Homo sapiens: one gene and its partners. The protein of the gene in region 1 purifies or fractionates together with the protein of each later gene. This does not show direct contact. Each region holds a gene or a part of one and is shown on either strand. Other genes may lie near its edges.

The links.
Region 2: the proteins of DHRS4L2 (region 1) and ACOT7 purify together in Homo sapiens (affinity purification with mass spectrometry; 3 studies listed by BioGRID and IntAct, with this or other methods). This does not show direct contact.
Region 3: the proteins of DHRS4L2 (region 1) and D2HGDH purify together in Homo sapiens (affinity purification with mass spectrometry; 3 studies listed by BioGRID and IntAct, with this or other methods). This does not show direct contact.

What each region holds. Positions count from the first base shown.
Region 1 is NC_000014.9:23,982,838-23,992,886, forward strand, and holds the start of DHRS4L2 (dehydrogenase/reductase SDR family member 4-like 2 isoform 1 precursor), read left to right. Parts: upstream 1-6,091; 5' UTR 6,092-6,110; coding exon 6,111-6,238; intron 6,239-7,344; coding exon 7,345-7,522; intron 7,523-10,049.
Region 2 is NC_000001.11:6,382,841-6,392,438, forward strand, and holds part of ACOT7 (cytosolic acyl coenzyme A thioester hydrolase), read right to left. Parts: intron 2,929-9,598; exon of another isoform or gene 2,827-2,928; coding exon of another isoform or gene 2,654-2,826; intron 1-2,653. UniProt on the Homo sapiens protein: Catalyzes the hydrolysis of acyl-CoAs into free fatty acids and coenzyme A (CoASH), regulating their respective intracellular levels.
Region 3 is NC_000002.12:241,749,977-241,759,574, reverse strand, and holds part of D2HGDH (D-2-hydroxyglutarate dehydrogenase, mitochondrial isoform 1 precursor), read right to left. Parts: intron 9,425-9,598; coding exon 9,281-9,424; intron 9,029-9,280; coding exon of another isoform or gene 8,996-9,028; intron 8,330-8,995; coding exon 8,187-8,329; intron 5,497-8,186; coding exon of another isoform or gene 5,458-5,496; exon of another isoform or gene 5,386-5,457; intron 4,945-5,385; coding exon of another isoform or gene 4,912-4,944; exon of another isoform or gene 4,829-4,911; intron 4,531-4,828; exon of another isoform or gene 4,439-4,530; intron 3,727-4,438; coding exon 3,561-3,726; intron 1-3,560.

The DNA of each region.
Region 1 (10,049 bases):
TAACTCAATTTTATTATGTTGTATTAAATTAAGTTGGGTTTAATTAAGATGGATTAAAGACTTAATTATAAGACCTAAAACCATAAAAACCCTAGAAGAAAACCTAGGCCATACCATTCAGGACACGGGTATGGGCAAAGACTTCATAACTAAAACACCAAAAGCAATGGCAACGAAGTCCAAATAGACAAATTGGACCTGATTAAACTAAAGAGCTTCAGCACAGCAGAAGAGACTATCGTCAGAGTGAACAGGCAACCCACAGAATGGAAGAAAATTCTTGCAATCTATCCATCTGACAAGGGGCTAATATCCAAAATCTACAAAGAACTTAAACAAATTTACAAGGAAAAACACAAACAACCCCATCAAAAAGTGGGCTAAGGATGTGAACAGACACTTCTCAAAAGAAAACATTTATGCAGCCAACAAACATGAAAAAAAGTTCATCATCACTGCTCATTAGAGACATGCAAATCAAAACCACAATGAGATACCATCCCACACCAGTTAGAATGGCAATCATTAAAATGTCAGGAAACAACAGATGCTGGAGAGGATGTGGAGAAATAGGAACACTTTTACACTGTTGGTGGTAGTGTAAATTAGTTCAACCGTTGTGGAAGACAGTGTGACCATTCCTCAAAGACCTATAACCTGAAACACCATTTGACCCAGCAATCCCATTACTGGGTATATATCCAAAGGATTATAAATCATTCTACTATAAAGACACATGCACACATATGCTTATTGCAGCACTGTTCACAGTAGCAAAGACTTGGAACCAACCCAAATGCCCATCAATGATAGACTGCATAAAGAAAATGGGGCACATATACACCATGGAATACTATGCAGCCATAAAAAAAGATGAGTTCATGTCCTTTGCAGGGACATGGATGAAGCTGGAAACCATCATTCTCAGCAAACTAACACAAAAACAGAAAACCAAACACCACATGTTCTCACTCATAAGTGGGAGTGGAACAATGAGAACACATGGACACAGGGAGGGGAACATCACACACCAGGGCCTGTTGGGTTTATAGGGGGCTGGGGAAGGGATAGCATTAGGAGAAATACTTAATATAGATGACGTGTTGATGGGTGCGGTAAACCACCATGGCACGTTTATACCTATATAACAAACCTGCAAGTTCTGCACATGTATCTCAGAACTTAAAGTATAATAATTTAAAAAAAGAAAAAATGTAAAAAAAAGAAATTAAAAAGAGTTGGAGCATAGAAGAAAGAAAAGAAATGCAATTTGAAGGGCAGTATGTGCAGTGTAATCTCATTTGTGGAAACAATTTTTAAAAGAAAAATGCATGTAAATGTATAGGAAACTTCTGGAAAGATACACAAAGCCAAGAGCTGTATGGGAAGAAGGTAAAAGAACCATAGGGAAGAGTTACCTTTTACTTTTCACATAACTTTCTTTCCCTTTTTAAAATAATAAGCATGTTTTATTTTTATAATTTAATGAACAGATGTGTTGATTTGAAAAACACACTGATCCTGAAAGTTAAAATTCCAATTCAGAGAAAATTGATTTCTATGAAAAGTATCAATCCCCCAACAATGTCATCAAAATGAAGTGTAGCTATACAACACAGACAGTGGTTGAGGTTGTCATCACTCACTCGACTTTCACATATAGAATTTAAAACACCCGACCGGGCGCAGTGGCTCATGCCTGTAATCCCAGCACTTTTGGAGGCCAAGGCAGGAAGATCACTAGGTCAAGAGATGGAAACCATCCTGGCCAACATGGTGAAACCCCATCTCTACTAAAAATACAAAAATTAGCTGAGCGAGGTGTTGTGCTAGCTCACCAGGTACTGTAGTCCCAGCTACTCGGGAGGCTGAGGCAGGAGAATCGCTTGAACCCGGGAGGCAGAGGTTGCAGTGAGCCAAGATTGTGCCACTGCACTCCAGCCTGATGACAGAGCAAGATGCCATCTCAAAAAAAAAAAAAAAAAAAAGAATTTAAAATGCCACAGTCCTTGGTGGACTGAACAAAAGAAGATTAACATGGTAATAAAGACAAATGAGTACATATGGAAGAAGGGGTCAGGGGGCTCATTTCTTCTAGGGAACAAGGGCCCTGAGCTTCTATACCCCTTCGTATTTACTGAGTAAAGGAGATAGGGAGAAAGGGGTGGTTGTCAGTAAGCTGCTTGACTTAGTGTAGGCTTGTATGACTGCATTCTTTGAACAGTAGTCTCCAGAGGTTCCAGTAGATAACCTCAAGGAGCACAGCACCAGGGAGTAATTGCCCTCAGCAAACCTCCTGGTGGCAGGTGCAGAAGCGAGTTTGCCCACATTTTGCAATCATGATAAACAGTTGGCTGTTTGATCATATAGCCTTCAGTGGAATGCTGAGTTGGTCACGACCCTCAGGCCTTTGGCTCCCTACATTAAAACACCCATTTCACCAGATTAAAAATATTCAATAAAATTTCTAAAAAGCACTTAACACTTGCCAGCACTTACTAAGGAAGTGCTCAATAAATGCTGTTAACACTCTTACTATTATTTCTCTGCTTGGCAGTTGTCCTAATCCCACACCAGCCCTTCCACATAGCCTAATCCTGACTTGTGTCAGTGATGCATGACTCAACAGTGAATCTGGGACAGCTATTGCAAAATGCAAGACTTAAAATCCATCCCAGATGAATTCTCTTCTGGACCGCAGGCAGCCCTTGAAAAGGATGAGAGTAGAGCCCTCAATCATGGAGGCATTTGTCCCTCAAGATAGGCAGATGTTACCACCTCCATACAAGAACAATCCCATTGCCTATTACAGTTCCCATTTCAGAGAGATACTCCCACATATGTATGTATTTCCCTGAAAGGTTTCTTGTTCCTCTTCTTTTTTTATTTTTTTGAGATGGAGTCGCTCCTTCTGTTGCCCAGGCTGGAGTGCAGTGGCATGATCTCAGCTCACTGCAACCTCTGCCTCCCAGGTTCAAGCAATTCTCCTGCCTCAGCCTCCTGAGTAGCTGGGATTACAGGCACATGCCACCAGGCATGTATTTTTAGTAGAGACAGGGTTTCACCATGTTGGTCAGGCTGGTCTTGAACTCTTGACCATGCCCAGCTAATTTTTGTATTTTTAGTAAAGACAGGATTTCACCATGTTAGCCAGGCTTGTCTCAAACTCCAGACCACACCCGGCTCATTTTTTTATTTTCAGTAGAGACGAGGTTTCATCATCTCAGCCAGCTGGTCTCAAACTCCTGACCTCAAGTGATCTGCCCACCTCAGCCTCCTAAAGTGCTGGGATTACAGGCATGAGCCACCATGCCCACCCCAAGATTTCCTGTTCTTATCTCCAATAAGCCAGCTTGATGAGGAGTAGCGCTAGAGATTCCCATACTTCTTGACTTCCTTCTATCCTTTTCTGCTCACAGGCCCCCTGTGAGAACACTGCATGTTCTCACTCATAGGTGGGAATTGAACAATGAGAACACTTGGACACAGGGTGGGGAACATCACACACTGGGGCCTGTCGTGGGGTGCAGGCATGGGGAAGGGATAGCATTAGGAGGAATACCGAATGTAAATGATGAGTTAACGGGTGCAGCACACCAACATGGCACATGTGTACATATGTAAAAAACCTGCACGTTGTACACGTGCACCCTAGAACTTAAAGTATAATAAAAAAAAAAAAAGAAAGAAAGAAAGAAAAAGAAATAGTGCTGGAGGCCAAATAGCAACCCTGCCCACACAAGGAAGGGCCATGTGTTGTTCACCAAGCTCCCAAGCCACAATTCTCTTTTCCCAGAATCCTTTGCTCTTTGAAGTGTGGTCTTCCTCACTTTCCTGGAACCCTCAGCCCCTCAGTGGGCCCGTCTACCTCTGAAGAGAAGAGGAAGAGAGATCAAATACCCCCCTGGAGGCTTGTCCCTTTGAACCAAGCCCTGAGAACCCCCGCAGCAGTCCTCCTGTGTACCCTCCCCCCAGCCCCACACAGATGGAGAGCCCTGGGAAGGGTTCCCACAGTGCATGAGCTCCAAACAGTGCAAGAGCACAAGGAGTGTGGCGCTTCCAGCCTCTGTCAATAATTCATGAGGCTCAGACTGAGGAGCACCAGTCAGAGTCAGCTTTGCCTGGACATGGGGAAAATTATACTGCAGCTCTCCTGTCTCATCGGGATGTGCTGAGTAGCAAAGCAGAGTGCTGCAGCTGTAACTTCTTGGCTGAGGAAAACACTAGAAATCCAGTGCAGGCCTGTTCTATTACTTGCTCGCCATACACCCCCTTTTGAATGTTGAAATCCTTGTTTTTTTTCTTTTTGTTGAGACAGAGTCTCCATCTGTCGCTCAGGTTGGAGTGCAGTGGCGTGATCTTGGCTCACTGCAAGCTCCGCATCCCGTGTTCATGCCATTCCCCTGCCTCAGCCTCCCGAGTAGCTGGGACTACAGGCAAGTACCACCACGCCCGGCTAATTTTTTGTATTTTTAGTAGGGACGAGTTTCACCGTGTTAGCCAGGATGGACTTGATCTCCTGACCCCGTGATCCGCCCGCCTCGGCCTCCCAAAGTGCTGGGATTACAGGGTGAGCCACCACGCCCAGCTGAATGTCCAAATCCTTTTTCAGCTGCTCAGCTGACCTGCACATATACTAAATGAATCTTGAGCAAACATGAATTCTATTCAAAAGTCATGCCTAGAACTGGATTTCACAAACCAGGATTCTTTCCCCTCTAATTGTAGGGACTGGCATAAGGCTGCCAAACTGGTGATTTCACCAATAACACATCTCTAAACCTACCCATCTGCTTTCATCATCTTTTCTGAAACAAAACACTAACACACACACACACAAAAAGAAGGAAAGGTATACTCCACAATAAAGGACTGTTAAATAAGCTTAGCTTTATGAAACTCACTGTAATTGTTTCCTTTTCTCATTTTGCTTTGAACTAGTGAAAACGCTGCCATGAACCAGCACTGCTTCTCAGTCTGGCTTTGGAGGCCAGTGGGTTAAACTAATTCAGATACTTACCTTTGGGTCTGTTGCGGCCTTTCTACACTGTACCATAAGCCATCCATATTTATTCATTCTCCCGGAAACCCAGGAGGGAGATCATTTCAGCCCACTTGGCAGAAGTGGAGACTGAAGTCTTGGACACAGAATTTATAGCTGGCAAGGACTTTATTCATCATCCATACCCTCAGTAATTTACAGATGAAGAGTCTGGCCCAGGGCACCAATAATAATCACTACATGGTGGCAGTAACTACTATGTGCTTAGTAGCTTACAGTTCATAAAGAGATTTTGCATTCAACAAATATTTATTGAACTAGGATGGAGGCTAAGACCTGGGGACAGAGTGGTTAGGGAGAACTTGAGTGCCCCGAGTTCTTTGCATTTCCACCACTGCTTGAGGGACTGTCCAGCCTCCTCGCTACCACTTAGCCCCTGTAAAGGAGGAAGTCCCTTTGGCGAGGGATATGAGATCCTGTTTTGCCAATGACCGTAGTCTGCCCTCCAAGGGCCCGTGAAGATGGAAGAGACCTTGGGCAGAGTGAAGGGCAGTGCCAGGCCTGGCGCAGCTACTGCCTATCACGTCTCTCTCCCAGGCTGCTCCAGCCTCACCTGGTGGACTCCATGGGGACCACAGGCCTCACCTCCATGGGCAGTCTCAAAACATTTGCCCTCCTGTGGGCTGTCACATACATAGACCCAGACTTTCTTGGAGAAGGAATTCTGAAGAAGCAAAAGCAACCAACTCAAAACCCCCACTTCCCCAAGAAGAAAACGTGGACAAGCAGATGCAGAAGGGCAGCAGCCAAAGTCTGCGGGTTCCTGCGGGGGCCAGGGGAGGGGCGAGCCCTACAGGCAACTTGAACGGAGAGCGCTTTGATCACTCACCAGCCCGGGAAGGCAAGCCCCAGTCAGGCGGAAGGTAGCTGGCTGCGGGGCGGGGCGACTGGCGGGCGGCGGGAGGCGCCAACCGCCACAGACGACTCCCAGCTGGCCGAGGGCGGGAAGGGGGCAGGCAGGGAAGCGGCCCGCCCTTCGTCCTGCCCCTTCGCCCTACTCTGTCACCTCCGCTGGAAGGAGTGGAACCCAGACTTGCTGGTCTGATCCATGCAGATGGCCAGGCTGCTAGGCCTCTGTGCCTGGGCACGGAAGTCGGTGCGGATGGCCAGCTCCAGGATGACCCGCCGGGACCCGCTCACAAATAAGGTGGCCCTGGTAACGGCCTCCACCGACGGGTGAGTGTTGGTGCCGGAGTTTCTGAGGCCCTGGCTGCCTGGAAACATGCACTGGTGTCTCGTCCTTTGCCTCCAGTGCCCCTGTCCTCAGACCTCACATACCGCCAAAGTCTGGCCATGGAAAAAAAGTAGCCACGTGGTCCGCCTGAAGCCCCTCCGAATACCCTGGCCCTCCCTTGCCAGCCCTTCTGTCCCTGCTGCCTCTGGCACAACTGTGCCACCTCTGTGCAGCCCCATCGATCTAGTCCCCCCAGTGTTCTGGGCTGCCCCAGTCAACCAGCCTTACCTAGCCTCTGGGAAGACCAGAAACTGGAAATGCAAGGGAATCTGGATTCAAAATCTTATAACAAGGCCTCCAGCTTTTTGAAAATGTACCATTCTATTTGGGCTCCAGAAAGTGTCCCGGAACCCCTCCCCCTTACCTAGATGGGACACCAGAGCCATGTGTCGAGACTTTTTTTTAGGTCGGTACATCTGGGCCTACCTTGCCCAGCCTGTTTCTCACCCACCTCTCTTGTCAGTCCTGGTTCTCATTTCTACAGGACTTTGCTAGATGCCAGCTCTTCACAAAACTAAAATACAAATGTAGATAAAATGCTAATGGCTGACAACTGCAGAATGTGTAACTCTTCTTCCCAAGGCAATATTTACGTTTTTGACCAGAGACCATCTTTTCACATGCACCCCAAAAAATAATTATGGAAAGAATTTTGAGAATGATGTAGACTAGTAAGAAAGAAACCTGGCGGCAGGACTGTTCTGAGTGAGACCTTCAAATCACGGAAGTGGCTGCTGCTGCACACCCAGCTCATTTCTCACCTCTCAGTCCCAACAGGAGATGAAGCCTGTCACCCGTGGTGGGAACTGTAGAAAGTGATGTCAGTTCTTGGGAACTAAGGCTGTGATCCAGGTCATAATAAAAATAAGTAAAGCAGTGCTAAAAATGGCCATGCCATTAAGCCTGTTTTACACATAGTAGGCACACGTAGGAGTTATATAGAGAAAGAGCCAGAATTCAAACCCGGGCAGTCTTAACTTCAGAGCCCATGCTGTCGACCTCTTCCCCTGCACAGGCCTTAGCAGTCTTTGTCTCTTTCTGCTCACAGGATCGGCTTCGCCATCGCCCGGCGTTTGGCCCAGGACAGGGCCCACGTGGTCGTCAGCAGCCGGAAGCAGCAGAATGTGGACCAGGCGGTGGCCACGCTGCAGGGGGAGGGGCTGAGCGTGACGGGCACTGTGTGCCATGTGGGGAAGGCGGAGGACCGGGAGCGGCTGGTGGCCATGGTGAGCTGCAGGGAAATGGGCACAGAGCCAGGAGGTGGAAAAGGAAGCCAGCCTGAGCCTCCTTCCCTGCTTTCCTAGACAGCAGCACATTTTTACTGTGTGCCTTTCTATTATGTCCATATACTAACGTCAGAGAATCATCCCATCTCAGTCAGAGAATTTTAAAACATTCTAATGCTTCAACCCTGCATCATCCCTTGAGTACCCCAAAGAAACAGCTGGTACTGGTTCTGCAGTAATTTTCAATCTAATTGAACAGATGTGAAGGGTAAATACAATCACAAAATAGATGTTCCCACCCATGAGCTAATAAACATTCCCCTCTTCTTCAGCTTATAGAGTCAAGTCCCTGGGAACCTCAGGAAGCAGCCCACCATGTTTCAGCCACTTACTATGTGCCATTTCCTGTGTTCAGAGCCTTACACAGGTTATCTCTAGACCTGACAACAACCCAAGCAAGGCAAGGACTATTCTCTCAGTCTGCAGACCCTGGCTCAGATAGCTGGAGCAACTTCCCAAGGTCCCACAGCCAGTAAGGAAAGACCCAGACCTCCCAAGCTCCCTTCCTTTATTGGCTGCCTGTGGACTACCAGGTACTGGACTTCAGTCTCAAAGAAAGTACATAAGTCAATGTCATAATTAGTAGTGGACAACAGCCTTGCAGCTGCTGAAGCAACTATGAAGCATTCACAAAGGAAGCTCCTCTTCCCTTGAGGCTCAGGGCACACACTTTATTTCCCAGAGTGGAAGGGAGAATCTACCCAAAAATGGAAAGTACAGGATTCTGCTAACAGATTGGAAGGTTGGCAGAAATAATTTGCATAATCTTCTTAGAAGAGGAGGATCTTAAGCAATAGTAGACAGAATAGGGTAATTCCATTTTTAAGGAACAGTCTGGCAGACACTCAAATGTGCATTGGAAAGAGCCAAATATGAGTCCAAGAAAGTCACAAATGTGAGTCCAAAAAAGCTTGGCTTAGACTGGTCGACAAAGCCCAAGATTGGGGCCTTGATCCTGATGGTGGAAGGAGCCGTTTGGGAGTCTGGATCAATTAGCACTAACCATACGACATGTAAGTAGCAATGTAATGTGAAAATCCTCCTAGAAAAACAACCTGTGCCCCCCACCAGGTTCACTTAACATGGCCTACAGGCCTGGCCCAGAAGTGGTACTTGAGCTAAACCTTAAGGAATGGATGGGAATGGACAGATGGAATAGTGACGAGGTTCCAGATAACTCTGCAAAATGAGCAGACAGCCAAGGAGGAACTGAAGGAAAGAGAGGAGCACTGTCAGTCCACAGTGGAGAGCACAGGCTCAGGAGTACTGCTGGGGAAGGGGCTGCATTGGAAAGATAGAGGCCATGGGCCTCCATATCTTTTTTTTTTTTTTTTGAGACAGAGTTTCATTCTTGTTGCCCAGGCTGAAGTGATATGGCACAATCTCAGCTCACTGCAACCTACGCCTCCAGGTTCAAGCAATTCTCATGCCTCAGCCTCCCGAGTAGCTAGGATTACAGGCATCCACCACCACGTCCAGCTAATTTTTGTATTTTTAGTAGAGACGGGGTTTCACCATGTTGGCCAGGCTGGTCTTGAACTCCTGACCTCAGGTGATCCACCCCCTCGGCCTCTCAAAGTGCTGGGATTACAGGCGTGAGCCACTGTGCCCGGCCATAGCTTCTTAAAAGGATACGTTAAGGACCTTAAAAGGATATGGCCTCTTAAAAGGATATGTTTACACATTCTTGCAGCAAATAAGAAGCCATGTGAGGTTTTGAGCAAGAGAAAGATGGTTATTAGGAAAGCTAATCTGGCTCTGGTAGGAAGGATATACAGAGGAGACACCGAATCCAGGGCATCAGTGAGGAAGCTGTTGCTGTCGTCCAGGTTTAGAGCAGTGGCGGCGGGACTGGAATAGATGTGCCCAAGAGACATTTAGTGGAAACGAACCAAGATTTTCCAACCCCATGTCAAAAAGTGGGAAATAGAGAAGTCAAAAATGACTCTCAGGTAGTTTGTATGACCATTGTCAGAGAAGAGAATGATAGAATACTTGTCAGCAATTTGAAATGTCTTCTGCCAGTTGCCACATGTTACCCTGCAATAAGAAAAGCCACTGCCCTGAGAATGGATACTACCCAGTGGCCTCCTCATCTGCACACCACGAAGCTTCTCACTGGTGTTGTAAGTGGAAACCAGAGTAGCTGCCTATCTGCTTGATTATATTTTTTCTTAAAAATGTATAACTATCAGAACACAGAACAAACAGCTCCTAACCGCTTTAGTGTAGTGATCACACAATTTAGAATAAGACTTAGAAGACTTTCTTTTATTTTTTTCCAGAGACAGTGCCTCATTCTGTTGCCCAGGCTGCAGTGCAGTGACATGATCATAGCTCACTGTAACCTCGAAGTCCTGAACTCAAGCAATCCTCCCACCTCAGCCTCCCAAGTGGCTAAAACTATAGGCATGCACCACCACACCAGTTCATTTTTTAAATTTTTTGTAGAGTTGGGGCTGTATTT
Region 2 (9,598 bases), on another chromosome or scaffold:
ATATACATATACACATATCATTAAGATGGCAGTTTTTTTGTTTTTTTTTTGTTTTTGGACAGAGTTTCGCTCTTGTCACCCAGGTTGGAGTGCAATGTCACGATCTTGGATCACTGCAACCTCCGCCTCCCAGGTTCAAGTGATTCTCCTGCCTCAGTTTCCCAAGTAGCTGGGACTACAGGCGTGGGCTACCACGCCCAGCTATTTTTCGTATTTGTAGTAGAGACGGGGTTTCACCATGTTGGCCAGGCTGGTCTCCAACTCCTGACCTCAGGTGATCCACCCAGCTTGGCCTCCCAAAGTGGTGGGAATACAGGTGTGAGCCACCATGCCCGGCTAAGATGGCAGATTTTTTTTTTTTTTTTGAGACGGAGTCTTGCTCTGTTGCCCAGGCTGGAGTGTAGTGGCGCAATCTCAGCTCACTGCAAGCTCCGCCTCCCGGGTTCATGCCATTCTCCTGCCTCAGCCTCCCAAGTAGCTGAGACTACAGGCGCCCACCATGACGCCTGGCTAATTTTTTGTATTTTTAGTAGAGACGGGGTTTCACCTTGTTAGCCAGGATGGTCTCGATCTCCTGACCTCGTGATCCATCCGCCTCAGCCTCCCAAAGTTCTGGGATTACAGGCGTGAGTCACCGCGCCCGGCCTGATGGCAGATTTTTTTAACGGTAAATTATATATTATGTGTATTTTAACACAGTTTTTTTTTTTTTGAGAGACAAGAGTCTTGATCTGTTGTCCAGGCTGGATTGCAGTGGTGCAATAAGCTCACTACAGCCTCAACTTCCTGGGTTCAAGCAATCTTCCTGCCTCAATCTCCTGAGTGGTTGAGACTACAGGCACACCCCACCTACCCTGCATCTGGCTAATTTTTTTTTCTTTTGAGACGGAGTCTTGCTCCGTGGCCCAGGCTGGAGTGCAGTGGCACGATCTTGGCTCACTGTAAGCTCCGCCTCCCGGGTTCAAGCCATTCTCCTGCCTCAGCATCCCAAGTAGCTGGGACTACAGGCGCCCGCCACCACACTCGGCTAATTTTTTGTATTTTTGGTAAAGATGGGGTTTCCCTGTGTTAGCTAGAATGGTCTCGATCCCCTGACCTCGTGATCCGCCCGCCTCGGCCTCCCAAAGTGCTGGGATTACAGGTGTGAGCCACCACGCCCAGCCAACATCTGGCTAATTTTTTAATCTTTAATAGAGATCAGATCTTGCTATGTTGCCCAGGCTGACAACTTTTTTGAATTGGAAAATTTTCTTAATTAAAAAATTTTATCTGAGAAGGGACTTGCATCTAGAATATATAAAGAGCTCTCATCACTCAACAACAAAAAGACAATTACACCAATTGGAAAATACAGGAAAGACCTGACTAGACAGCTCTCTAAAAATACACAGTGGTCAATAAGCACATGAGAAGATGCTCAGTATCATCTTCTCTCATTAGGGAAATGTAGATCAAAGCCACAGTGAGATACCACTGCACATCTACTAGCATGGCTAGAATTCAAAAGATGGATAATAACAAGTGCTGACAAGGATATGGGGAAATTGAATCCTTTTTACACTGCTGGTGGGAATGTGAAATGGTGCAGCCACTTTGGAAACAGTCTGGTAATTCCTCAAGAGAATAACCACAAAATTACCATATGACCCAAAAATTATATTCCTAGGCGAGCTGTTTTTACTCATGCTTTTAATAACAAACATGGGTGTCTCTTTCAACCCCACTTCTCCAACTCTCCGACACTAGGTGGGTGTCCTACAATTCAAGTAAAGTCTGGCACTACCTTCTGCGGTATAGGAAGGTAAGGTTGAAAGCGCTAACCCGCTAATCCTCCCTTGGCCTTTCTGGAGACCAGCTCCCATCCTGAAGCTATATCTAGGGCCCCCAGCCACCAGTTCTCTCATTAGCATACTAGACACTCTTAGGACTACAAAGGTCCCAAGGGCTTGGGGAGCTCCATGTCAGGAGAACAAAAAATCCTCCTACCACCCCTTTCAAAATTGATGGAGGTCATGATCCCACAGCTCTGTGAACATAAAACTGAAATCTACTAGCTTGTACACATTAGTGAATGAATTGTATGGCATGTGAACTATAACCCAATAAAGCTGGCACAAAGGGGGAGGTATGTATGCCCACTCAACAGAGTTTCTGTAAAGTTTAGGAGAAATAAAGTATGCAAAAGCCATCTGTAAGCAGCTCAACACTGCACTGTTAGGATCAGCCAATCGTGCAGGAACAGCTCCCTCTGGCCCTGCACCAACCTTCTGGTCTAAAATCACAGCTCAACATCCAGCCTAGGGACAAAGCAGGGCACGGATGCCAGCTGCCAGCTGTGAGCCAGCACAGCTGCTGGCTTGCAGGAGCCTTGATCTGCAGAGGCCCAGATTCCCACAGCCCAGGGTTGCCAGGTCACCTCCTCCAACAAAGCCCGGGTGTTCCGCTCGTCCCTAGGGGAAGAACATGCCAGGTCTCCACTGAGGGTGGCCACTTAAGTGGGCACTTTCAATCCAGCAAAACACACAGCTCATCCAACACCCGACCCTACTACCCTCCCCAAAACTCCTCCAAGTTATGCGGCCCAAGGCCCTGGCTGCCCAGTCGGCGTCGCAAGTGAGACACCATGGGCACAAAATATTCCCAGTCATCCTACCTTCCAGTAATGCAGGCTCCACAGGGTGGGAGATCAGCCCTGGGCCCAACCACCTGGACGGGAGCGCAGCACCCTCGCCGGGGCCCCACACATCCCTGGCCAGCCACCAGCCTCCTGGAAGATGCCTGCCTCCCAAACTCACAGAGCCGGAGAGCCCTGGCAAGCAGCTTCATCCTGCGGTAAGTGGGCAAACTGTTTACCCAGTGACAAGTATGATGCCCAGCAGAGCCCAAGCCTGTGTCTGCCTGGCCGGCTCAGCAGTGAGCCGGTGTGATCCCTCCCTGATAGAAAGCACCAGGCTCCTGCTCCTCCTAGGACCGCCCCTCCCCCACCAGCCCCCGGCAAGCCGCCTCCTCGGCTTCCGGAACTGGATCACAGGATGTTCTCTACAAAAGACCAGTGATGCAAGGAATCCATGACTCGGCCTGAACTCACAGACAGGGAAACAGGACAGGGCCACCACCCCTCTGCGGGAGAGGATGAACTGGGTGGGGCCACAAGCAACACTCATAAGGGTTCCCACCTCCAGGACCTTAAACCTCGCACCACTCAGGCTGGCCCTCAGGCAAGTAGAAGAATGAGTTCCACCTGGGCGGAGTTCCACCTGGGCAGAGAGGTCTTGGCTCACAGGCACCGGGAGAGCTGGAAGGCTGCGGGGAAGCCGAGGAAGGCCAACACACCGCACAACACGGCAGGTGCCTGGCCCTCCTCTGACAGTGGCCCTCAAGCTCCAGGAGGGCCGAGGAAAATGCAGATTCCTGGGCCTACCCCTCCCTGACCTTCCCCGCCCCTGGAGTTAGAGGCAGTAGCTCTGGGGTGGAGGCTCAGGAGCCTGGTTTTCTTTTTATTCTTCATTGTGGTAAACATCAAATGCTTACAAGAGTAGAGGGAGGAGGGAGTGAACCCCTATGTCCCCATCAAGCAGCCCCAAAACAGTCAGCTCAGGGCACCTCTGGTCTCTGCTCCCACCTGCTCCCCATGCCAGGTTATTCTGCAGCAAATCCCGGATTTCCCAGTACGACATCGTAAATATGTCTGCATTTCCTCTCAAAGATAAAAGCTCCTTGTGAAAAACCTAAAGGAGGGGTATGGTGACTCATGCCCACAATTCCAGCACTTTGGGAGGCCGAGGTGGGAAGATCACTTGAGCCCAGGAGTTCAAGACCTGCCTCGGCAACAAAGTGAGATCATGTCTCTACAAAAAATCTTTTTAACATTAGCCAGGCACAGAGGCGTGCACTCGTAGTCCCAGCTACTCGAGAGGCTGAGGTGGGAGAATCCCTTGAGCCCAGAAGGTTGGGGCTGCAGAGAACCATGATTGCACCACTGCACCACTTAGTTGCCTGGCCAACTAAGCGAGACCCTGTCTCAAATAAAAATAAAAACCACAAAACAAAGATCTCATCTAAAATATCATCCAAATTCCTAATATCATTAAATAGCAAGTGACTTCACGTTTCTGTCCTAAATGAATTGAAATCTGCATTTGTGAACTTCATTCACAAGATCCCAAGTCTCTGTGGCCTGGTGAAGAGAAACTGCAGTGTGCAGGGAACAGGGTAATACAGGGCTACGGGGACACAGGAGCGAGGCCCAGCACTGAGCTCGATCCGGTTCCATCGACACGAAATTCTAGAAGAGGCACAGCGAGTGAGTGAAAGCAGATCTTTTTGCCAGGGGCCAACAGTAGGGGAATTTTGGGAGTTTGGAAATATTCGACATCACAACTGGGCCCGCCACTACTCAGTGTGCACACTCATCAAAACTCAGCAAACTGTACGTTTCAAATATTCTTGTGTATGCATTCTAAATCTATCTCAATAAAGCTGGTTTAAAAAAGCAAACTACAAAACAATTATCCTACCTTAAAAAAAAAAGCAGTGATTCCTTAAAATCATTATCAAGGGACTATTCAAGTTTCCCCATTATCTCCTCAATCTTCATCTTGTTGACTCTCTGCTGAAGTACTGTTCACATGCAGAAAACCCATATTTGTAACAGACTTCCCCAGTTATTCCCATGCAGGGGTCCAAGGATGGGGAGGCACATCCTTGATCCCCCTCCCCAGGAGGGCTCTGAGAGTGAGAGGCCAAGGGGTGGGATGGCAAGACAGCCTATGGGGTCACCCCCTGGTGCAGGCTACACAGGCCAGGTGGGTCACACAGGAGAAAGCCACTTCTGGTCTGACCAGAACTGGGGAGCCAGCTAGCTGCAGGTGCCAATTCCAGGGCAATGCCAGGCTAAGTGGCCCACTTACAGCGTGAGGTTGGACAGTGGGTAGACAAAGGCCTCCCCACGCACAGGCTCTCTGGGTTACAAAGACTGCATCTTCACCCAGGGTCCACACATCCCAGCAGCAAGAGAGCCAGCACTGTAAATCATTTTGCGGAATGCTCCAGAATACAAGCTCTGAGTGTGGCTTCTGTAAATCAGGTTCTTTGTTTTTTTTTTTTTCTTTTTTTTTGAGACGGAGTTTTGCTCTTGTTGCTCAGGCTGGAGTGCAATGGCACAATCTCGGCTCACTGCAACCTCCGCCTCCCAGGTTCAAGCGATTCTCCTGCCTCAGCTTCCCAAGTAACTGGGATTACAGGCACCCGCCACTACGCCCAGCTAACTTTTTTTTCTTTTTTTTTGAGACCAAGTCTCACTCTGTCGCCCAGGCTGGAGTGCAGTGGCGGGATCTCAGCTCACTGCAAGCTCCGCCTCCCGGGTTCATGCCACTCTCCTGCCTGCAGCCTCCCCAGCAGCTGGGACTACAGGCGCACACCGCCACGCCCGCCTAATTTTTTGTATTTTTAGTAGAGATGGGGTTTCACTGTGTTAGCCAGAATGGTCTCCATCTCCTGACCTCGTGATCCGCCCACCTGGGCCTCCCAAAGTGCTGGGATTACAGGCGTGAGCCACAGCGCCTGGCCAGGTTCTTTCTTTTCATTAATTCCATTATAAAACCAAAGACAGAGCCCGGCCTGGTGCAGTGGCTCACACCTGTAATTCCAGCACTTTGGGAGGCCGAGGCGGGCAGATCACTTAAGGTCAGGAGTTCGAGACCAGCCTGGCAAACACAGTGAAACCCCGTCTCTACTAAAAATACAAAAATTAGCCGAGTGTGGTGGTGGGTGCCTGTAGTCCCAGCTACTCGGGAAGCTGAGGAGAGGAGAATTGCTTGAACTGGGGAGGCAGAGGCTGCAGTGAGCCAAGATCCTGTCACTGCACTCCAGCCTGGGTGACAGAGTGAGACTCTCTTAAAAAAAAAAAAAAAAAAAGGCCGGGTGCGGTGGCTCACGCCCGTAATCCCAGCACTTTGGGAGGCCAAGGTGGGAGGACCACAGGGTCAGGAGATCGAGACCATCCTGGCTAACACAGTGAAACCCCATCTCTAATAAAAATACAAAAAAAAATTAGCCGGGTGTGGTGGCGGATGCCTGTAGTCCCAGCTACTCAGGAGGCTGAGGCAGGAGAATGGCGTGAACCCGGGAGGCGGAGCTTGCAGTGAGCCGAGATCGCGCCACTGCACTCCAGCCTGGGCAACAGAGTGAGACTCCGTCTCAAGAAAAAAAAAAAAAAAAGACAAAGGTAGAGCCCCTCTTTGTCTTTTCCCTTGGGGGAAATAATTCTAACCCCATAACATACTGAAACTCATAGCCACTCAGCTGCTGTTTATTGACCTGTCAACTAGACCTCAGACACTATTCTAGGCATTCATGGTACCACATGGTACAACACAATTCCTGATCTCAGGAAACTTCCTGGTAGATCTGCATCTAAGAGCATGGCAAGCAAAGAAAACACAAAAAAACCTTGTAGATTTCACACATCTACCTATAAATAAAGCATGCCAAGTTATCTGCCTGCTGGGTGGTGTCCATGCCAAGGTCCCCCTCCATCAGCATGGTTATTCCAGAGCTGGCTACAGTCCCCAGAAAGCCTTGGAGCTTCCTTTAGGAACACCCTGCCCCCCACAGACCTACTAGTAAATTGATGTTTAAATTTCTCTACATATTGCACTCCCCAAAAGATAGCCACCAGCCACAGGTGGCTACCCACCTGAATTTAAATTGATGCAATTAAAAATTCTGTTCCCTTCGTGACCAGCCTGACCAACATGGTGAAACTCCATCTCTACTAAAAAAATACAAAAAAATTAGCTGGGCGTGGTGGCGGGCGTGTGTAATCCCAACTACTCAGGAGGCTGAGGCAGGAGAATCAGTAGAACCTCGAAGGCAGAGGTTGCAGTGAGCCGAGATGGCATCTAGCCTGGGGGACAGGGCAAGACTCCCTCTCAAAAAAAAAAAAAAAAGAAAGAAAAAAAAGCCCCTATCCCTTCAACAATGTCTGAACTGAGAACATGTGACCATTGTGTCTAAGATGGTGGGAATTTGGACGTTCTCACCCCTGCTAGACTGTGACCCCTTAAGGCAGGGGCCACATTTTCCACACGTTTCCCTCCTGGTGCTATGCTTCTTGGCAGTGTCCAGTAAAGCATTGTTAAATTCATGGGCTTGGCTGTGCTAGGCCAGGAGGCTCCTCTTTCAACTTGGGGTGTCAGCTCAGATGTCCTTAAAGGGCTCCCCATCCTAGTACAGTCACTCTCCAGTGTCCTGCGGTTTCTCTGAGTCAAGCCGATGGAACCACAGCCTTCTCTTCACAGGCCTACCCCTACCACCACTCCCGCCTACTCCTTTGGCAGTCACGCTCTGCACCTGAGGCTCACCTGCTCACTCATGAGCAGGGGCAGCCAAGCATCCTCCTCACCAGTCGTCTGGCCAAGGCAGCCACTTAGAAACAATATGCAATTGGCCAGGCACGGTGGCTCATGCCTGTAATTCTCAGCACTTTGGGAGGCCGAGGCGGGCAGATCATCTAAGGTCAGGAGTTCGAGACTAGCCTGGCCAACATGGTGAAACCCCATCTCTACTAAAAATACAAAAATTAGCTGGGCACGGTGGTGCACGCCTGTAGTCCCAGCTACTCGGGAGGCTGAGACAGGAGAATCACTTGAACAAAGGAGGCAGAGGTTGCAGTTAGCCGAGAGTGTGTCACCGCACTCCAGCCTGGGTGACAGAGTGAGACTCCATCTCCAAAAAATAAAGAAACAATATGCAATTGTGAACCTGAGATAGCAGACTTGGTTTACAGTGGGTAAGAAAAAGCACACACACGGGCCAGGCGCAGTGGCTCACGCCTGTAATCCCAGCACTTTGGGAGGCCGAGGCGGGCAGATCACCTGAGGTCAGGAGTTCAAGACCAGCCTGGCCAACATGGTGAAACCCCGTCTCTACTAAAAATACAAAAATTAGCCAGACATGATGGCGGGTACCTATAATCCCAGCAACTCAGGAGGCTGAGGTGGAAGAATCGCTTGAACCCAGGAGGCAGAGGTTGCAGTGAGCTGAGATCGTGCCATTGCATTCCAGTCTGGGTGACAGAGCGAGACTGTCTCAAAAACAAACAAACAAACAAACAAAAAGCACACACTTACTGTATGGAAGTGTCTAAAGCTATACAAAAATCTAGTAACTAGGCTAGGAGCAGTGGCTCACGCCTGTAATCCCAGCACTTTGAGAGGCTGAGGCGGGAGGATCACCTGAGGTCAGGAGTTCAAGACCAGCCTGGCCAACATGATGAAACCCCATCTCTACTAAAAATACAAAAATTAGCTGGGCGTGGTGGCGCACGCCTGTAGTCCCAGCTACTCAGGAGGCTGAGGCACAAGAACTTTTTCCAGCTGGGTGCGGTGGTTCACACCTGTAATCCCAGCACTTTGGGAGGCCGAGGAGGGCAGATCACAGATCACCTGAGGTCAGGAGTTCGAGACCAGCCTGGCCAACATGGAGAAACCCCATCTCTACTAAAAACACAAAAATTAGCCAGGCGTGGTGGCGCACTCTTGTAGTCCCAGCTACTCGGGAGGCTGAGGCCCAAGAATCACTTGAGCCCAGGAGGCAGGGGTTGCAGTGAGCTGAGATCGGGCCACTGCACTCCAGCCCGGGTGACAGAGTGAGACTCTGTCTCAAAAAACAAAAAATCTAGTAACTGTTAGAAGCTGGGTGAAAAAAGACAACATGTATAAATTGGCTATTCACCACCCTGAAGAAGTAAATAAAAGGCCAGCCTTCCACGGGAAGATTTAAATCAAGGTTTCCTTTATTCAGGAGAGGGGTGGGAAGAATACTGGATCTGGAGTCAGAAGACTTGGGCAGGGGCTGTCCCTGGATCTCCTGGAGCAGGATGACCTTACACAGTTACTCAACTCCCAAAACTGCCATTTCCTCCTCCACACAGGTAAGGGTGGCACTACCGACCATCAACCTCCCAGGGAATTGGGCAAACCAAGTGGGATGAGACAGGTATAAGCTCTTTGCAAACCATGGAGCCCAAGTTTCCCAGCCAATACTCAGCAGAGCTGATTCAGGAACCTGATGCAGGCTGTCTGTCTCCAGTTATTTCCTTTTTTTTTTTTGCCCCGCTTTCCCCACCTCCAGAGTCGATGGGACCAGAACAGCCACAGAGCCAAAGTCAAAGGGGCAGGGCTCCCCCAAAGACGTTCCCCCTCTGGAAAAGTCAAAACCGACCTTGAGGTAAGGAGAGGCCCTCGACCAGGCCAGAAGATGAGACTGAGAGTCAAGAATCGCCATAGACCCAGGACTTGCTATATGCCCAGCCTTCCTGGAGATGTCAACATCTACAGGAAAGTAACTTGCTTCTATTGGACTTGGCTTGAGCCCAAGGTCAGTCTGTGATGCCCAACCCCCAAATGTGAGGAACCCACTACCAAAACAGAAAGCAGCTCTCACTCCTGGTAGTTCATCAAGCAGGATAGGACCGGTCGCAGGCCACAGAGCCTGTGTGCAGTGGCTGAAAACCTAGACTCCTTGTCCTCACTTAGCTCATGCACAAATGCCAGCCTGCTGCTTCCGATTCTGCCGAAGAGAACTGCAGAGTAAC
Region 3 (9,598 bases), on another chromosome or scaffold:
CGGGGGCGTCCACAAGAAACACATCTAAATCACTAAGGATGGAAAAGCTGAAGCTAACCGGAGGAAAAACAACACATCAGGCAAACACTAAATAAAAGAAAGTTAGCATCACTGTGTAATAAACAAAGCAGACACCAAGGCAGCGGGCAATGCTGGAGATAAAGAGCGAGTCCATCGCGTTAGGAGATTCAGTTTCCCAAAACAAAGAGACGAACCTCATGTCCTATGCCCCTAAGAACACGTCTCCAGAACTGGCAAAGCTACAGGAGGAACAGATTAGTCTGTTGTCAGCAGATTTCTAACACCTCCCTCAGGGAGTGGCAGGTCAGCAGGATGTAGAATGAACACGCGACGTATACTTCTATCTGATGGATCTGTACAAACACTGATTCCAGCAACTGCAGAGAGCACATTCTTTTCAAGCACTCCACAGTTACGAAGGCTGATCATAAGCTGCCACTGATCAAGTTTCAAAAATCTGATCTGATAAGGACGAAGTTTCCTGGGTATAATGCAATAAAAAAGAAATCAATAATTTTTAAAATAACTAGAAAACCACCACGTTTGGAAATTAAGAAACACACTTCTGCATAACTCATCGGTCAAAGAAGGAATGATAATGCAAGCAGCAAATAATGCCAGGCACAGTACCTCACGCCTGTAATCTCTGGCTTTGAGAGGCCAAGGAGGGAGCATTTGCTTGAGGCCCCGGAGTTCAAGACCGGTCCGGCCACACAACTGGCTCTACATGAGTCTGGCTCTACACACACACACACACACACACACACACACACACACACACACATATATTGTGGGGCGGGGGGCGGTATAGATCAGATGTCACTGTGTTGCCCAGGCTGGTCTAGAACTACTGGACTCCAGTGATCCTTCCAGCCTTGGCTTCCTGAAGTACTGAGATTATAGGCGTGAACCACTGCACCGGGCCTACAAAAAAATTTTTTTTTAGTTAGCCAGGCCTGCTGGTGTGTGTGAGGTGGCGGGCCTGCTTGATCCCAGAAGGTCGAGGCTGTGGTGAGCCACTGCACTCCAGCCTGGGTGACAGCGAGACCCTGTCCCCACCAAAAAAAAGGGTGTGGGGGCATCCCACAAATGCTACATAAAAAGACAACAAAAGAATATTCGAACAACTTTATGCCAATATGGGAAAAAATTAGCAATACCAATCTAGAAGAAAGGAAAGCTTGAAAGTCCTAAAGCTATTGAAGAAGCTGAGCTATAATTTTAAAATACTCCCTCAAAAAAACCTCCAGGCCCAAACAGCTCCACTGGCAAGTTCTGCATAATATTCATGTTATGATTTTGATACCAAAATCCAGCATGGACAGAAGAAAGGAACAGCGTGGAACAGAATCATCCACCAAGACCCCTGTCAAAATCCCACACCAAACATAAACAAACTCATCCAGCAAGATACAGAAAGGATCATGGCCACCTTGGGCCTACCCCAGAAACACAGACTCATCTGACTCCAGAGGGATCAATCAGTGTAACTTACCACACTGATTACAGGCAGACAAGCACCCGGTCACCATGACAGATGCAGGAAACACATTTTAAAAATTCAACATTCATTCTTGCTTTTTTTTTTTTTTTTGAGATGGAGTTTCACTCTTGTCACCCAGGCTGGAGTGCAATGGTGCAACCTCTGCTCACTGCAACCTCCGCCTCCTGGGTTCAAGTGATTCTCCTGCTTCAGCCTCCCGAGTAGCTGGGATTACAGGTGCCTGCCACCATGCCCAGTTAATTTTTTGTATTTTTAGTAGAGGCGAGGTTTCATCATGTTGGCCGGGCTGGTGTCGAACTCCTGACCTCAGGTGATCCACCCGCCTCAGCCTCCCAAAGTGCTGGGATTACAGGCATGAACCACTGCGCCTGGCCCATTCTTGCTTTTACAAAGTAACAGAGGGCTCATTCCATTTCTCACCAAGATGGTCTGCTTTATCTGTGGCCAAGAGAGACTGAAGTTACCTGGAGAGGAGGAAGCCTCCTCCTGGCTTGAGGTCATATTCTGAAATATTGGGGATCCCGTACCCCTCTTCTCTGGATGATGACACACTCATCATGCCCTTAACCCCTTCCCATATTCTGAAATATTGGGGCTCCCGTACCCCTCTTCTCTGGATGATGACACACTCATCATGCCCTTACCCCCTTCCCATATTCTGAAATACTGGGGCTCCCGTACCCCTCTTCTCTGGATGATGACACACTCATCATGCCCTTACCCCCTTCCCATTCAGGAGTCCTGCCTTCCTATCACAGAAGATTACCATCCATCCTATGTCAAATCCTCCAGATGTACCCCTCCACAGGCTGGGCAACTTTGGGCAAGTTACTTAAATTCTCTGAACCTGTTTACATGTGTGTAAAAGGGAAGCAACACCACCAGTCCTAAAAGCTGTTGTGCAGAGAAGTTTCTCCACATCAAGTGCTTAGAATAATGCCTGGGACAGCACGGGACCTTCGTAAGTAATACGTGTTATTGTCGTCACGTACACAACCCTAGACCCTCCTGTAACCACAGAGGTGGCACCTGAATCCCATTTACTGGCAGATGGATGGAGGCTTCAGGTCAGTGACTCCAGTGCCACCAGGCCAGGGAAGAAGCCAGAGTGAATATCTGTCAGGCCCCAAAGCCATGCTCCACACCCCCAGCACTGCCCCCACCCCTGCCCTATAAGCTGGCCTTTTAGACACCTCGCTCCAAGGCTCCAAAGAACTGACAGGAAAACAGCTGGGCACGGTGGCTCACTCCTGTAATCCCAGCACTTTGAGAGGCCGAAGTGGGCAGATCACCAGAGGTCAGGAGTTCAAGACCAGCCTGGCCAACATGGCAAAACCCTGTCTCTACTAAAAATACAAAAATTAGCCAGGCCTGGTGGTGGACGCCTGTAATCCCAGAGACTCGGGAGGCTGGGGCAGGAGAATTGCTTGAACCCAGAAGATGGAGGTTGCAGTGAGCCGAGATTGCGCCACTGCACTCCAGCCTGGGTGACAAGAGTGAAACTGCGTCTCAAAAAAAAGAACTGATAGGATTGAAACATTTTCTTCCTATGAATTAATAGCTTACACGTTAAAGCATGATTTTTCTGCAGAAAAAAGATGATCTGAACGTGGTTTTGAAATCCTCCCATCTGAAGGGGTAGAGCAGCTGGGGGCTAAGCACTGCAAAGGCCTCGGGGCCGGGCCCTGTGAGAGGAGCCCCTGAGACCCGCATCCCGGACTCCGGGGTTAAGGCTGATGCCCTCCAACCCTGCATGCCACTGAAGATCCCAGAACGTTCTGACAAGCTGAGCCATGCGCTCTGCCATTACAAGTGCACGATGGCAGTCTTTTCCAAAATACTCAAAACGAGTCATGACAACGATTAGGATTTTCCCTTCCCTGTCAGACACCGTGGTCCTGCCAGTGTCTACGGGAGATATGCTAAGCCAGAGACCATGGTCAAACTGCCCTGCCTCGAAGCCTGGCAGGGTGACGGTGACCGTGGGGCCCACCACCCAGCACACACAGGGCCGCGGCCCCGGGGCGCCGCTCACCAAGGTGGCCATAGCCCACCACGTGCTTGGCGTGCGGGCCGAGGCGGGCGCGCAGGTCAGTCACGATGTCGTAGAGCCGCTCCACAGGGAGGGAGAGGTCGTACTTGTACACGTAGCCATCCCGGCTCAGCGCCTCTGTGATCCTTTCCCTCAGGGCCCACAGCATCTAGAGGATGAGACGAGATGAGACAAGGGCTGGCTATGGGAACGACACCCGGGGACAGGGGGCACACCACACGGGGTTAGGGCAGCAGCATGTTCTGTATCTTCACCAGGTGAGGCTCCGACCCCGGACAGCAAATGCCCCAGACCAGGTGTGGCTCCAACCCCAGACAGCGAATGTCCCAGACCAGGAGGGGCTCTGACCCAGGACAGCGAATGCCCCAGACCAGGTGTGGCTCCAACCCTGGAATCAATCCCAGACAGTGAATGTCCCAGGCTCCACGACAGCACCGAGCACCCTGGGACTCCGGCAATCAGGCGGCTGGGACACCTCACAGAAGGGGGACAGCCATGACGGAAGGGGGAGGCGCCCACCTGCAGCTTCAGGTCATGACACGGCACAGAGTGGCAAGGGCCAGGGAAGGCCCTGAGGATGAGAATGGGCCTGGACGCTCCCTGAACCAGGGTGGGGCAGGGTAGGGAAGGGGGCGCAGAGTCACACAGGCAGTGGGGACAACAGCAGGGCCCAGGCAGCTCAAGGGGCATGTCGGGTGGGAGGCAGGGACATGGCGGGTGGGCCACAGGGGAGGGAAGGACATGGTGGGTGGGCCACGGGGGAGGGAAGGACACGGTGGGCGGGCCGTGGAGGAGGAGGGACACGGCGGGCGGGCCACGGGGGAGGAAGGATTCTGAGGAGGAGCAGACGGTGCTGGTGGCTGAAGCAGAACCGGGCCAAATCCTAGGGCTCAGACAGATCGGCCTGTGGTTTGCGTGGCTTTTGCTTGCTTCGAACTTCCATTGTGGAGATCTGCACCATGAGGAACAGGACAGAGCCATCCTCTGTGGGCTGCAGGACCACCTCTCCCCTGCAGGGTCCTACCCAGGGCTCAAGCCCAGCACCTGCCCCTCCAGAGACCCTATCATTTCAGGAAATTCTAAGAGAAACACTTGGCCGGGCGCAGTGGCTCACGCCTGTATTCCCAGAGCTTTGGGAGGCTGAGGCAGGAGGATCACTTGAGCCCAGGAGTTTCAGACCAGCCTGAGCCACACAGGGAGACCCCGTCTCTTAAAAACAATAAAAATCAGCTGGGTTTGGTGGTGGGCACCTGTAGACTCAGCTACTCGGGAGGCTGAGGCGGGAGGATTGCTTGAGCCCAGGAGGTCGAGGCTGCAGTGAGCTGCAACTGTGTCACTGCACTCCAGCCTGGGTGAGAGCGAGACCCTGTCTCAAAAAAAAAAGACAAAAAAAGACTCTGTTTTATTGAGGCAACCACAATGCCACACTGACACTTAAAAAAATACCACCTCCTCGCCACCACTGGGAATCCGGCCGGCGCCCAAAATTCCCGCATTTCCCCACCATCAATTTTTTGTTTTTTTGAAGTCTCCCGATGTTGCCCAGGCTCGTCTCAAACTCCTGGGCTCAAGTGATCCTCCTGCTTCAGCCTCCCAAAGCTCTGGGATTACAGCATGAGCCACCGTGCCCGGCCCCTTTTACAAACTTCTAGAGCTAGTTCGGTCAGATCAGACCCTTGGGTCACGCCCTGCCCTGAGCAAGAGCCCCTCCTACGGTCCCTTCGTCACAGCCGCACGGGCACGGCTGCGAGGCCGGCTTTCGCCTCCATGGTCTGGCGGGCATCGGCTGCCTGTGAGGCCTTCTTACCTCCTCATCAGACCGGCCGCCCCATGTGTCCCCGTGGCCACAAGATGGGCTCTACCCTTGTCTGCTCACGCCTCAGTCACTCAGCTCCACACCCACCATCTCTGGAAGGTTCTAGAACATGGCAGGCACGCGCCCCTCAGGGTCTTGGTGCTCCTGCACCAGACGTTCTGCTCCCCACACCCCGTCTTTGCTGAAATGACCCCTCAGGGTCATCTTTCCGGCCCTCCCGGCACTCCCCGGCACACCCCATGACCCTGCCTGGCCCTGCCCTCCTCCCCGGCGCTTCCTGGCTCTGAGGGGCCATGGGCTGAGCTTGTTCCTTCTGCTGCGTGAGTTTATGGGGCAAGGCTTCTCCCGCCCTGGTCACTGCTGTCGCCCGGCAGGCACAGGGCACAGGAGGCATCTCCCTAGCAGGTTTGCTAACTGAATGACACGTGACGGGTGGATAGGCAGTGCCAATGAGACCCGCCGTGGTCACTACTCAGAGGAGCCCGGGGCATCTGGTGCGACCAGTGTGGCTTCCACTCGGGTGGGCTGAGGCTACAGCGGGGCCTGGGCAGGGCTGAGTGTCCCCCGTTGAACACAGGGCCCCCGCGGCAGCGGCTGGACCTGCGCAAGCCCCATTGTCTCAACATGTCCAAAAACCCAGGGCTCCCAGAAGGGAAAGACCACAGAGTGGAAAGCAGAATGGCTCAGGACCTGCCCAGAGCCTCGCCAACACCGGACAACAGCAGAGAAAAGCCTCAGGACCTGCCCAGAGCCTCGCCAATGCTGGACAACAGCAGAGAAAAGCCTCAGGACCTGCCCAGACCTGCCCAGAGCCTCGCCAACACCGGACAACAGCAGAGAAAAGCCTCAGGACCTGCCCAGAGCCTCGCCAACACCGGACAACAGCACAGAAAAGCCTCAGAGCAACTGCACACAACCGCATATCCGGGTCAACTCATCGAGCCGCACACCTAAGAAAGGGTCGTTTTGCTATCTGCAGAAAACAAAGGCCAGATTACCTACCCGTCGAGCATGAGCCAGAACGAGGTGACAGACACACAAGGCGTCTCCTGAACCCGTCCCAGGAAGCGTCTGGAGGTGACTTTGTGAACACAGAACCAGCCCCATTCGGCCCTGTCCTGGTCATGAACCCGGCTCTGGGCATTAATGTTCAAGGCACAGGTCTAGGACTGGACCAGGCTGTGGAGGGGCTGGGGACTGATGTGCAGAGGCTGGGGGCGTTGGGGACAGTCCGCCCTGGGGGTGGCGTGGGGGATGATGTGCAGAGGCTGGGGGCATGGAGGACGGCCCGCCCTGGGGGTGGCATGGGGGCTGGTAGAGAGGTTGGGGGTGTTGGGGGCAGCCTTCCTTTGTGGGGGCATGGGGGCTGATGTGTGGAGGCTGGGGTGCCAGGGTCGCCCTCCTGGGGGTGGTGTGGGGGCTGCATGACTGACTGCCACTCCAGCAAAGCAGCCAGTGCGGGATGAGGGTCCCCACCCGCACCACCAAGGGCAGTTGGGCTCACGTTCCCGCCCCATCTCAAGCAGAAGCTGAGAGAATCCCCGGCGGCTGTCCTGCTCTTTCTGCTGGGAAAACAGACTGACTGGCTGGGCAGCTGCCTCAGCCCGGGCCCCTGGACTGGAAGCCACAGGAGCACATGCAGCCACAGCGATCACCCACACGGAACGCGAGGGAGGGTGAGCCTCTGTTCGTGTGGTCCCTGGGGCCTGGGGATTGCTTGTTACTGCGGCAGAATGTAAGGGAGCTGACTGTCACAGTCCACTTAGAAAAATGCAGGAATGGCAGGCAGAGACCTAGGAAGGACGCACACTTGATCATGCCTCAGTCAACAGAGATGGCACCACACAGCTGCCATTCGCCCAGAGGACGCCCCTGGGCTGGGCATCAGGACACACAAGTGAGCCCAGCCGACCGCACCCCAGCCCTTGGGAGCAGACACCGTTTTGCCCAGAAGCACTGGAATCATGACAGTCAGGCGGCAAAGGTGAGGGGGGAAGATGGCAAGGGCAACACCCAGGCTAACACGAGCCTGAAATCAACTAAGCGGGAGTAAAGTCCTGCGCCCACTGCTCAGGCCCTGGTGACGGTGACCAAGGGCGCCTCCCACTGCCCAGGCCCCGGTGAAGGTAACTGAGGGCTCCTCCCACCCAGGTCCCGGTAACAGTGACCAATGGCTCCCACTATCCAGGCCCCGGTGACGGTGACCGAGGGCTCCCCCTGCCCAGGCCCCGGTGACGGTGACCGAGGGCTCCCCCTGCCCAGGCCCCGGTGACGGTGACCGAGGGCTCCCCCTGCCCAGGCCTTGCCCCTCCTTCCTTTGGCCTCAAAAGGCCAAATCATCTGGTCACACAGTCAACGCCCCTTCCTCCTAGGGAAGGAAAACTGCCCATCCTAGGACTCCCGAGGTCCAGGCTAAGCCTCCACAGCCCCAGGGGCTCCTCCTGCCTCCACTCCTTCCACACGACTCTATGCGGAGCTGCCGCTGACTGGCCGCTTAACCACAGGCTGCAGGGGACCAGCAATGGGGCAGTCCCCTTGCTCATCCCACAGCATGGGGTTGGGGAGGGTCATGGTGGGGAGGAAGTACTTTTTAAATATTAATGAAAATGGCCTAGACACCAGGAATACATTTTCCATCCAAAGAGGCTACTCTCTCAAAGCCATGAAACCCAGTCACATTTCAGCCACATCCCACACTGTCTAGGCTGCACCAATGACCGTTCCAGGCATCCCAAGACAAGGCTGGACTGGACGGACAGAGAGCGGGGACCTGCAAGCAGGACACAGGGCACCTTGACTTTCCTCTGGTCGGTGGCCATGGTCCCATCGGTCACCAGGCCGGAGCCCAGCGCGTGCTCCAGGAAGTGGCCCAGCTTCTCAGCGTCATGGCCTGCGTTGGAGCCTGAAGTCTCGATGAGGACGTAAAACGGACTCTCTAGAAGTGAGCAAGGAAGGCAGAGTGAGCAGAGGCTCCGGCTGCCAGGGCAAGAATCAGGGCTGCTCGGGCAGAACAGCTGTAATAGCAACCACTGATCTTTCGTGGCCAAGAAGGACCCAGGCAGCCTGCGGAGCACACAGCTCTCTGGTTAAGCTGACTTTCAGAAGGTTTAAAAAGTCGTCTTTGGCCGGGCACAGTGGCTCACACCTGTAATCCCAGCACTTTGGGAGGCTGAGGTGGGTGGATCACCTGAGGTCACGAGTTCGAGACCAGCCTGGACAACACGGCAAAACCCTGTCTGTACTAAAAATACAAAAATTAGCTGAGTGTGGTGGCAGGTGCCCGTAATCCCAGCTACTCAGGAGGCTGAGGCAGGAGAATTGTTTGAACCCGGGAGGTGGAAGCTGCTGAGGCAGAAGAATCGTTTGAACCCGGGAGGTGGAGGCTGCTGAGGCAGGAGAATGGTTTGAATCCGGGAGGTGGAGGCTGCAGTGAGCCAAGATCGTGACATTGCACTCCAGCCTGGGCCACAGTGCGAAACTCCATCCCCCAACAACAAAAAATTATTGGCTTTTTTCCCAGCATAAAAGAAAAACGTGCTTACAGAAAGCAACATGGGAAAACAAAGAAAAGAAGAAATGGAAAGAAAGTCTCCCAGCTCACCAAAAATAGCCACTTAGTTCCTTCCCGTCCTTCCTGCAGAAGATCAGGAAATCTGTGTAACTACAAACCTTACACAGGACCAGGGCAGCCTGTTCTTTGTCCTAAATATGTTAAGAGCAGCTTTCTTACACATGAGCCCAACGGCCACTCCATGCTCCGCCCAGGGACCCCCCACCCGCCCGCCCGGGCACCCCCCGCCCACCCGGGGTCTCTGAGCCGTCCCATGTGTCCAGACGTGCAGAAGGAGCTGCAGGACCAGCTGCCCCCTGTGTGGGGGGTCAGTACCTTGCACCGGGCTGGCCAGGTGGAGATGGCGCCCGACCAGCTGCATGCACACAGCATCCATGAACTCGAATGCAGACAGGATCTCACCCAGCATCCCCTTGCAGGTGCTGAAGGTCTGCAGAACCTCAGCAAAGCCTGGGCAGCCTGAAACGGGTCACAGCATGTCAAGCACCACACGGAGCTAAACCCAGCCCACCCAAGTCCCCCTTCAAAGCAGCAACATCAGCCCGACTCATGTGGGTGGGTGAGCTGGGCAGCCACGAGGAGCACGAGGACTGGCACTGCAACAAACAGCCCAGGGTTTGCCTGGCAGGTGCA